Linked DNA regions of Homo sapiens: regions 1 and 3 are each linked to region 2. Evidence: fine-mapped expression QTL. A gene starts in region 2. Each other region holds a variant in brackets. All regions are shown on one strand. Distances are from middle to middle.

Evidence for each region. PIP is the estimated chance that this variant, and not a neighbour inherited with it, causes the effect.
Region 1: its variant is the best candidate, but not a certain one, in a credible set for the expression of NT5DC4 in blood mononuclear cells (TOPMed, PIP 0.71).
Region 3: its variant is the best candidate, but not a certain one, in a credible set for the expression of NT5DC4 in blood mononuclear cells (TOPMed, PIP 0.86).

The regions. Positions count from the first base shown.
Region 1 is chr2:112,699,014-112,701,776 of GRCh38, reverse strand. No RefSeq gene overlaps it. Among named protein-coding and RNA genes, the nearest start is that of NT5DC4, 21 kb to the left of the region's middle. The variant A/C (reference allele first, on the strand shown) is at 1,439.
Region 2 is chr2:112,719,308-112,722,070 of GRCh38, reverse strand. NT5DC4 (5'-nucleotidase domain containing 4) reads right to left here and starts at 1,051. Exons shown (of 17, transcript NM_001393655.1): 1 at 918-1,051; 2 at 180-253; 3 at 1-85. The coding sequence starts at 991.
Region 3 is chr2:112,804,281-112,807,043 of GRCh38, reverse strand. No RefSeq gene overlaps it. Among named protein-coding and RNA genes, the nearest start is that of IL1A, 21 kb to the right of the region's middle. RefSeq lists enhancers at 1,057-1,396, 1,044-1,544, 1,627-1,736. The variant G/A (reference allele first, on the strand shown) is at 1,171.

The sequences.
Region 1 (2,763 bases), 20 kb after region 2:
AAGAGGCACCAAAAATATCTTTCCATAAGACTCACCCACCAGTGCCATGACAGTTTACCATTGCCATGGCAACATCTGGAAGTTATGACTCCTTTTCTAGAAATTTCTGAATAACCCATCACTTAATTTGTATATAAAATACAGGCCAGTCATGGTGGCACATGCCTGTAATCCCAGCACTTTGGGAGGCTGAGGCGGGTGGATCACTTGAGGTCAGGAGTTCAAGACCAGCCTGGCCAACATGGTGAAATCCCATCTCTTCTAAAAACATAAAAAATTAGCCGGGCGTGGTGGCACATGCCTGTAGTCCCAGCTACTCAGGAGGCTGAGGCAAGAGAATCGCTTGAACCAGGGAGGCAGAGATCGCTCCACCGCACTCCAGCCTGGGCGACAGAGTGAGACTCTGTCAAAAAATAAAATAATAATGATAATAAATAAAGTACGTATAAGTATAACCGCAGAACTGCCCCTGAGCTGCTGCTCTGGGCACATTGCCTATGGGTAGCCGTGCTCCAGAAGAAGCAGTTCCTCTGCTGCTGCCCTTCACTACCGCATCTATAAAAGTTGCTGTCTCACACCACTGGCTCACTCTTGAATTCTTTCCTGAGCAAAGCCAAAAACCCCCTCTGGCTAATCTCCAATTTGGAGGCTCACTTGCCCTGCATCAGAAGCTTAAGAAAAATCAGGATATTTCAGTAGCTTCAAAGTACCTCCCCCAAAATACTTGTTAATTACAAGGGGGAAAATAGAAACTTTACAGTGGAGTAACCAGCTGGACACTGTCTTAGCCAAGCAATCAGAGTTAATATCATGTATCCTGACATGGTACACTGGTAGAAAAGCACATTACTTCTGCATTATTCTCCCCCCAAATCCATAACCTTCATATAACCATGAGAAAACATTGAATGGACTTATATTGAGGAAGATTCTACAAAATGCCCAACCATTACTGTTAAAAACTGTCCACGTCATGAAAAGCAAGAAAAGACTGAGAAACTGTGACAGATGGGAGATTCAGAGGATATCATTACTAAATCAAAACAGGATCCTAGATTGGATGCTGGACAGAAAAAGGACATTAGGTGGAATACTAGGGAAACCCAACTGAAATCTATGTATTAATTAACTCCACTGAGTCAATGTTACCTTTCTGACTGAAAGTCATTGTACCATAATTCTGGAGGACAGTAGGGGAAGCTGAAAGAAGGATTTAAGGGAACTCTCTGTACTATCTTTGTAACTCTTTGGGTCATAAATTATTTCAAAATTAAAAAAAAAAATTTAAGCAATCATAATTCAGAAGGCAGTGATGAAATACACCATAAGCAAAACCAAAAGCATGTGACACTGTGGGAAGAGGAACTTACAACTCGTAACACAGACAAGAGTGAATCTCCCTAATACATAAAGAGCTTTGAGAAAAACATCAATAACC[A/C]AATAAGAGAAAAATGAACAAACAATTCAAAGAAAAGGAAAACAACTGGCTCTTAAATGTATAAGATCATCAAAATCTCTCATAAAATAACTGCAAATTAACACTACAGATAATTTTCACCTATCACATTGGCAAAAATCCAACTAGTTGATAATATTCTCTGTTGGTGAGTCTGTGGAGAAAGAGGAACTTTCAAACATTATTCGTGGGAATGTAAATGGATGCAACCACTTCTGGAAGGCAATCTGACAGCATCTATCAAAATTAAGATAAATCAGCCAGGTGTGGTGGCTCATGCCTATAATTCCAGCACTCTGGGAGGCAGAGGCGGGAGGATCTTTTGAGCTCAAGAGTTTGAGACCAGCCCAGGCAACAGAGCAATACCCCATCTCTGCCAAAAATGTTTAAAATTAGTTGGCTGTGATGTAGTCCTAACTACTTGAGAAGCTGAGGTGGGAGGATTGCTTGGGCCCAGGAGTTTGAGGCCATAGTGAGCCACGATGGTGCCACCGCACTCCAGCCTGGGCAACACAGCAAGATACTGACTCTACAAAAAAAAAAAAAAAAAAAAAAGATCAATCCTTTCTTTGACCCATTCCACTTTTACACTTCAGATTGATTTGTACAAATCCAAAATGTCCACATATATAAGGCTGCTCATGGTAACACTGCTTATAACAGTAAAATAAGTAGCATATATCCATCAATAGAAGGCTGGTTAAATAAAGTTAAGGCCCCACAGTAATGCAATACTTTATACACATACGACTTTGAAAAGTGAGGTTACCAGGGACTGGGGGGAGAGGGAAACAGGGAAATGCTGGTCAAAAAGTACAAAGCTTCAGCTATTCAAGATGAACAAGTCCTAGAGATCTGCTGTACAGCATGGCACATATAATTAACAATACTGTATTGTATACTTAAAATGGTGTTAAGAGGACAGAGCTCATATTAAATGTCATTATCACACCCACAAAAAAAGAGGAAGAGAGAAAACTTTTAGATTTGATGGTTATGTTTATGGCTTTTTTATGGTGACAGTTTCATGGGTATATATTTATTTTCAACTCATCAAGATGTACAAACTGAATATGTACAGCTTTTTGGCATGTCAATCATACCTCAATTAAAAAAAAAAGAAGAATGAGGAAGCTTTCTATCTACTAGTAAGGAAAGACCTCCAAGATTTACCAACAACTGTGGGGGAAAAGTTTGCAGAACAAATAGTATCTACATTCTGCATGAAAAAAAAAAAGAAGGGAGTAACAACAACAACAAAAATAACCCCATTAAAAAGTAGGCAAGAGATATGAACAAACACTTCT
Region 2 (2,763 bases):
AGGATCTCATGCGGGTACCCAATGCACACCAGGCGCTCCAGCAGCAGCTCGAAGGTCAGGGCCTCATAAGCTGGGGACTTGTAGGCTGCAGAGGCCCGGACAGAATCAGGGCTTTGGTGCCCAGCTGCCCACCCCTGCTCCCTCCAGCTCCCAATACGCTGTGTTCCAGCCCTCTCTACCAGCCAGAGTGTAGTCCATGTCGAAGCCAAAGCAACGAATCTTCCCCAGCGCCAGGCTGCGGTTGACAAAAATCCTGGGGAGAGAGAGGAGGATGTTGGCATCAGTCCACCAGCCCCCCAGAATCCAAGGCCCAAGGACAGAGGGGGTGGAAACCCCGCAGAGGAGGGCAGAGCACCCCCTGCAGCTGCAGAAAGCACAGGGGAAGCAGGTCAGGCCAAGCCAGGGCCCTGCCTGGACCCATGTGTGTCTGAAGGCAAGTGTGAGTGTGCATGTAAGCATGTGTGAGCATGTGTGCAAGCGTGCATCTGAGTGTGTGCGGGCAATCAGCCGCTTGCTGTCCCACCATGCAGGCATGTTATAGGCATCCAACCCTGTAAGAAAGTAGGTGCAGTTGTTGGTGTGAGGGTTGTCACCTTCTGAAATGGGACCCCAGTGTCCAAATTCAGAGATGATGTGTTTGTCACAATTGGATAGCACATGTCACTGTGTCCGTGGTGAAGGGGAGAGATCTTCGTGGAGGGAAGGAAGTGAAGAGGACCTCCCGCCGGAGTGTGTGTGGTCAGTTCCCTGATGGGTTGTTACAGCTATGGAAGTGCGTCCCTTGTGAGTGCAAGTGTACGTCTGCATTTTGGGAGTCCCCATAGCTGTGTATTTAAAGGAGCCCCTGTGTGCTGCTGTGGCGTGTGGGGTGTTTATGGGCTGAGACCCCTGGCCCCCACCCCAGGTGCCCATCTCACCGCTGGTGCCAGTCCTGCTTCGGGCCTTGAGGGGAGACCAGTCCCTCCGGCTCTCTCCAGTCTACACTGGCCATCGTCACCCAGAGTGAGGAGGAGGCAAGTGTCCCTTCCTCAGCCTCCTGCACACTATCAGTGGGGCCCAGCCACTCTCCTCTCCCTCAGAAGCTTCAGGCACCACTGACCCAGCTGGCCCCACCCTGTGCTCCCATCTCCCCCGAGCCCCTTTGAGGGAGGAGTCAGCCAGGACAGGCTCTGGTATCCCATCCTTTTCTCTAGAGCAAAAGCAGCAAGGATCTAGGAAGAGCAATTCATGTCCACTGCACCCTCCTCATTCCTAGGGCTTATGCATCCATGGACCTCAGCGGCCTGGAGAGTAGCGGAGAACCCAGAATGAGGCAAATGACGGGATACAAAGTCAGGAGGCTCCGTACTGTACTCATGATAAAAGAAATAACTCAGTACTCTTGCTTTATGCACAATTCTGACACATTTGGTTATCAAATTTCCCAGCTCAAGGCCATTTAGAGAAGACATTGCTAGAAGCATGCCAAGGGCTATAAGAATTGGGAAGATAACTGGGATCTCAGAATGGGGGGGTGGCAGAAAGTACAAAAGGAAGTGTCAAAAAGCAGAACCACTGGGGCCATTTAGTGTAGAGTTCTAAATACTCCCTGAGGGCCCATACCACTGGCTCCACAACCAAGCATGTGACTTCCATTTGGAGCGGTGACCTGGATCATCCAGAAAGACTTAACTGAAGTGCCAGGCCCTCTTTTAAAAAGAAAGACAAGGCTGGGCACAGTGGCTCACGCCTGTAATCCCAGCACTTTGGGAGGCCAAGGTGGGTGGATACGTGGTCAGGAGATCAAGACCAGCCTGGCCAAGATGGTGAAACCCTGTCTCTACTAAAAATACGAAGAAAAAAAAAATTGCCCTCTTGGGAGCCTGAGGCAGGAGAAAAAAAAAATTAGCCTCTTGGCAGCTTCTCGGGAGGCTGAGGCAGGAGAATTGCTTGAACCCAGGGGTTGGAGGTTGCAATGAGCCGAGATTGCTGCACTCCAGGCTGGGCAACAGAGTGAGATCCTGTCAATAAAAAGGGAAAGAAAAAGGAAGAAAGAAGGAAGGAAGGAAGGAAGGAAGGGAAAAGAAAAGAAAAGAAAAGAAAAAGAAAGAAAGAAAGAAAGAAAGAAAGAAAGAAAGAAAGAAAGAAAGAAAGAAAGAAAGAAAGAGAAAGAAAGAAAGAAAGAAAAAGAAAGAAAGAAAGGAAAGAAAGAAAGAGAAAGAAAGGAGGGAGGGAGGGAGGGAGGGAGGGAAGGAAGGAAGGAAGGGAAAGGAAAGGAAATGAAGAAAAGGAAAGGAAGAAAGAAAAGGGCCTGGCGCAGTGGCTCACACCTGTAATCCCAGCACTTTGGGAGGCCAAGGCGGGCAGATCACTAGGTCGGGAGTTTGAGACAAGCCTGGCCAGCACGGTGAAACCCCATCTCTACTAACAATACCAAGATTAACCAGGCATGGTTGCGCATGCCTGTAATCCCAGCTACTCAGGAGGCTGAGGTGGGAGAACCACTTGAACCCAGAAAGCAGAGGTTGCAGTCATCCAAGATCGTGCCACTGCACTCCAGCCTGGGCAACACAGCAAGACTCCGTCTCAAAAAAAAAAAAAAAAAAAAAAGACAGACAAGTTTACAGTCGGTTTCAGCACTTTCTCTCTAAAATGGCTAAACTAAACTAAATGAAGGTGGCACTCTTAAAAGGATAAAAGTTATCTGGAACAACAACAGAAAAACATATCCATGGAAGAGCTCCTTCCTTGACAAAGCCAGGTGAGCAAGCACAGTTGTGTGCT
Region 3 (2,763 bases), 85 kb before region 2:
TTTTGTGTTTACAATTTTATATTTGTTTTCTTAAAGAAGACCACCAATATAAACTATATCCAGCCTTCATGATAAGTACATAGGAAACTATGCAAATAAGGGGGAAAAAAAACAAAGAAAAATACCTAGTTTACTAATGGTTCACTTCTGAATAGCACATATTCATAATGATACAAGCACTCATTACTAGTCTAAGAAAATGAAGATATAATTGCATTAGGAAGATCAAGAGGTAGGAAATGTGGATGTGTGTGGTATAGACTAGGGCAGGACAAAGAACCTAAATCCTCATTTTCTAAAGATAATTGTTAATACGTAAAACTCAAAATTCAAGAAGTAACAGTAAAAGCGGTCATTAAGAAACAAGCACTAAACACCAGATAGGAAGCGAGAGATGGGGGAAGAGGGCAAGAATCTGATTATTTTTTGCAACAAATTTTGTAAAACCATTTGACTGTTTACATGTAGAACTTGGATCTTTTTTAAAAAACACAAAATAATAATACTATTATTTTTTAACTGGATTTTTGAAAAAGAAGATAAAAGTCTCATTTTAGTAATTAAAACTCATTCCAGGTTAGTCCACTCAAAACTTATATTCGAAAATTAAAACTTTGGGAGGCTGAGGCAGGCAGATCACCTGAGGTTGGGAGTTCGAGACCAGCCTGACCAACACGGAGAAACCCCGTCTCTACTAAAAATACAAAATTAGCTGGGCGTTGTGCATGCCTGTAATCCCAGCTACTCGGGAGGCTGAGGCAGGAGAATTGCTTGAACCCGGGAGGCAGAGGTTGCAGTGAGCCGAGATCACACCATTGCACTCCAGCCTGGGCAACAAGAGTGAAACTCCATCTCAAAAAAAAAAAAAAAAAAAAAATTAAAACCTCTGGAAGTTGAGTTTGCAGATATTCATTATGCTCATTTTTAACTTGTATGTTTGGAAAATGTCATGATGAGAATTGAGGTTGGGGGATGAGAAAAAAAGAAAAACATCAACCCCACAGCCCATTCAATTTTCAGCCCGACCCACAGCTCCGGGGAAGGGCAGCAGGTCCATCCTTCACTCTTTCTTCACCTCTTTCCCCTCCTTCTGGCTCTTCCACCTCTAAGTTGGAGCCCAAGAAGAGGCACTGGGAAATGGAAAAGTCTTTTGTACGTGGTACTTGCCGG[G/A]GAAGCTGCCATGAAGACCTGGCCCCACGGTGGGGAGGGAATGCCCAGCTGAGGCCTCGTGCCCATGCTAGGATAGACTCGTCCAGACATGTCAGGTGGTCTGACAGGGCAAGCAGCAGGAAGTCATGTATGAGTATGAACTGATCTGTATGCAAGGGCGGGGAGAACACGCGGAGGAATGGGGCGTGAGAAAACAGCACAGTACGTTTCTTTAGCAGCTGTCTCTGCTCAGCCATGGGAGGTCACAGAGAAAGAGGCTTGGAGGCGTTATTTTCACTGTGAGATGTGAGTGTAAAAAAGTGCCCAAGACACAGTGAGTACCAGGGAGATGCCCTCTTTCCTACCCGAATGCAGAATGGCCACAGGCCTTAAAACACACACATGGGTCCTCAGAGGAGAGAGGCCTCCACAGTGGACACCCGCATTCTCCCCTGGTCAGCAGCAGCAGGGCGAGTGCTGGGCCATCATGAAGCTTCACAGGCAATGAGCTCTCAGCAATAACAGGAACAGTGCCTGGGGGACTGTAGCTGCAAGACCGATTTTCATGTAAGATGGCCTCTGAGGACTCCGAGATACACCAGGCTGAGACTAGCTGGCAGCTCCAAGTTCTTGGTCAGAAGAGAACAGGAACTAGGGAAATTGGAATTACTGTTACTACAATTCCTTTACATCCGCACAACCATGAGGTCCAGAGAGTCTCTCTTATTTTTTTTTTAAAGACAGGGTCTCACTCTGTCGCCCAGCCTAGAGTGCACTGGTGTGATCATGGTTCAGTACAGTCTTCACCTCCCAGGCTCAAGTGACCCTCCTGCCTCAGCCTCTCAAGTGGCTGGGACAGCAGTTGCATGCTACCAGGCCTGGCTTTTTTTTTTTTTTTTTTTTTTTTTTTTTTTTTTCGGTAGAGACTGGGTCTCTCTGTATTGCCCAGGCTAGTCTCGAACTCCTGGGCTCAAGTGATCCTCTGGCCTCAGCCTCCCAAAGTGTTGGAATTACAGGCATGAGACACTGCACCCAGCCAGTATAGTCTTTTAACAGCTTTATTGAGGTACGGCTAACATTGAAAAAACTACACAAATGTAAAGTATGCAATTTGATAATTTTGACAAATGTACACACCAGTGAAACTATCACTACAGTCAAAATAATGAACATATCCATCACTCCCAATTTCCTCACGCCCCTTGGTAACCCCTCTCTCCCAACTCCCTGCCCCCTAACATCAGACAACTACTGATGCATTCTGTCTCCATAGGCTCATTTACATTTTCTAGAATTTTACATAAATAAAATGACAGAGTATATACTCCTTCATGTATGGCTTCTTTCAGCCCAATTATGTCAAGATTCATGCTTATGGCTGTGCGTATCCTTAGCCCATCTCTTTGTCTTGCTGAGTAGGATACCATTGCATAGACAGACCACAGCTTGCTCATCCATTCACTCTTGACAACGTTGAATTGTCTCTGTTTTTTGCAATGACAAATAAGGTTGCTATGTACATTCCTGTATAGACATTTGTAAAAGCACAGCATTTCATTTCTCTTGGGTAAAGACCTAGAAGTGGAAGGGCTGAGTCATATGGTAAATATATAT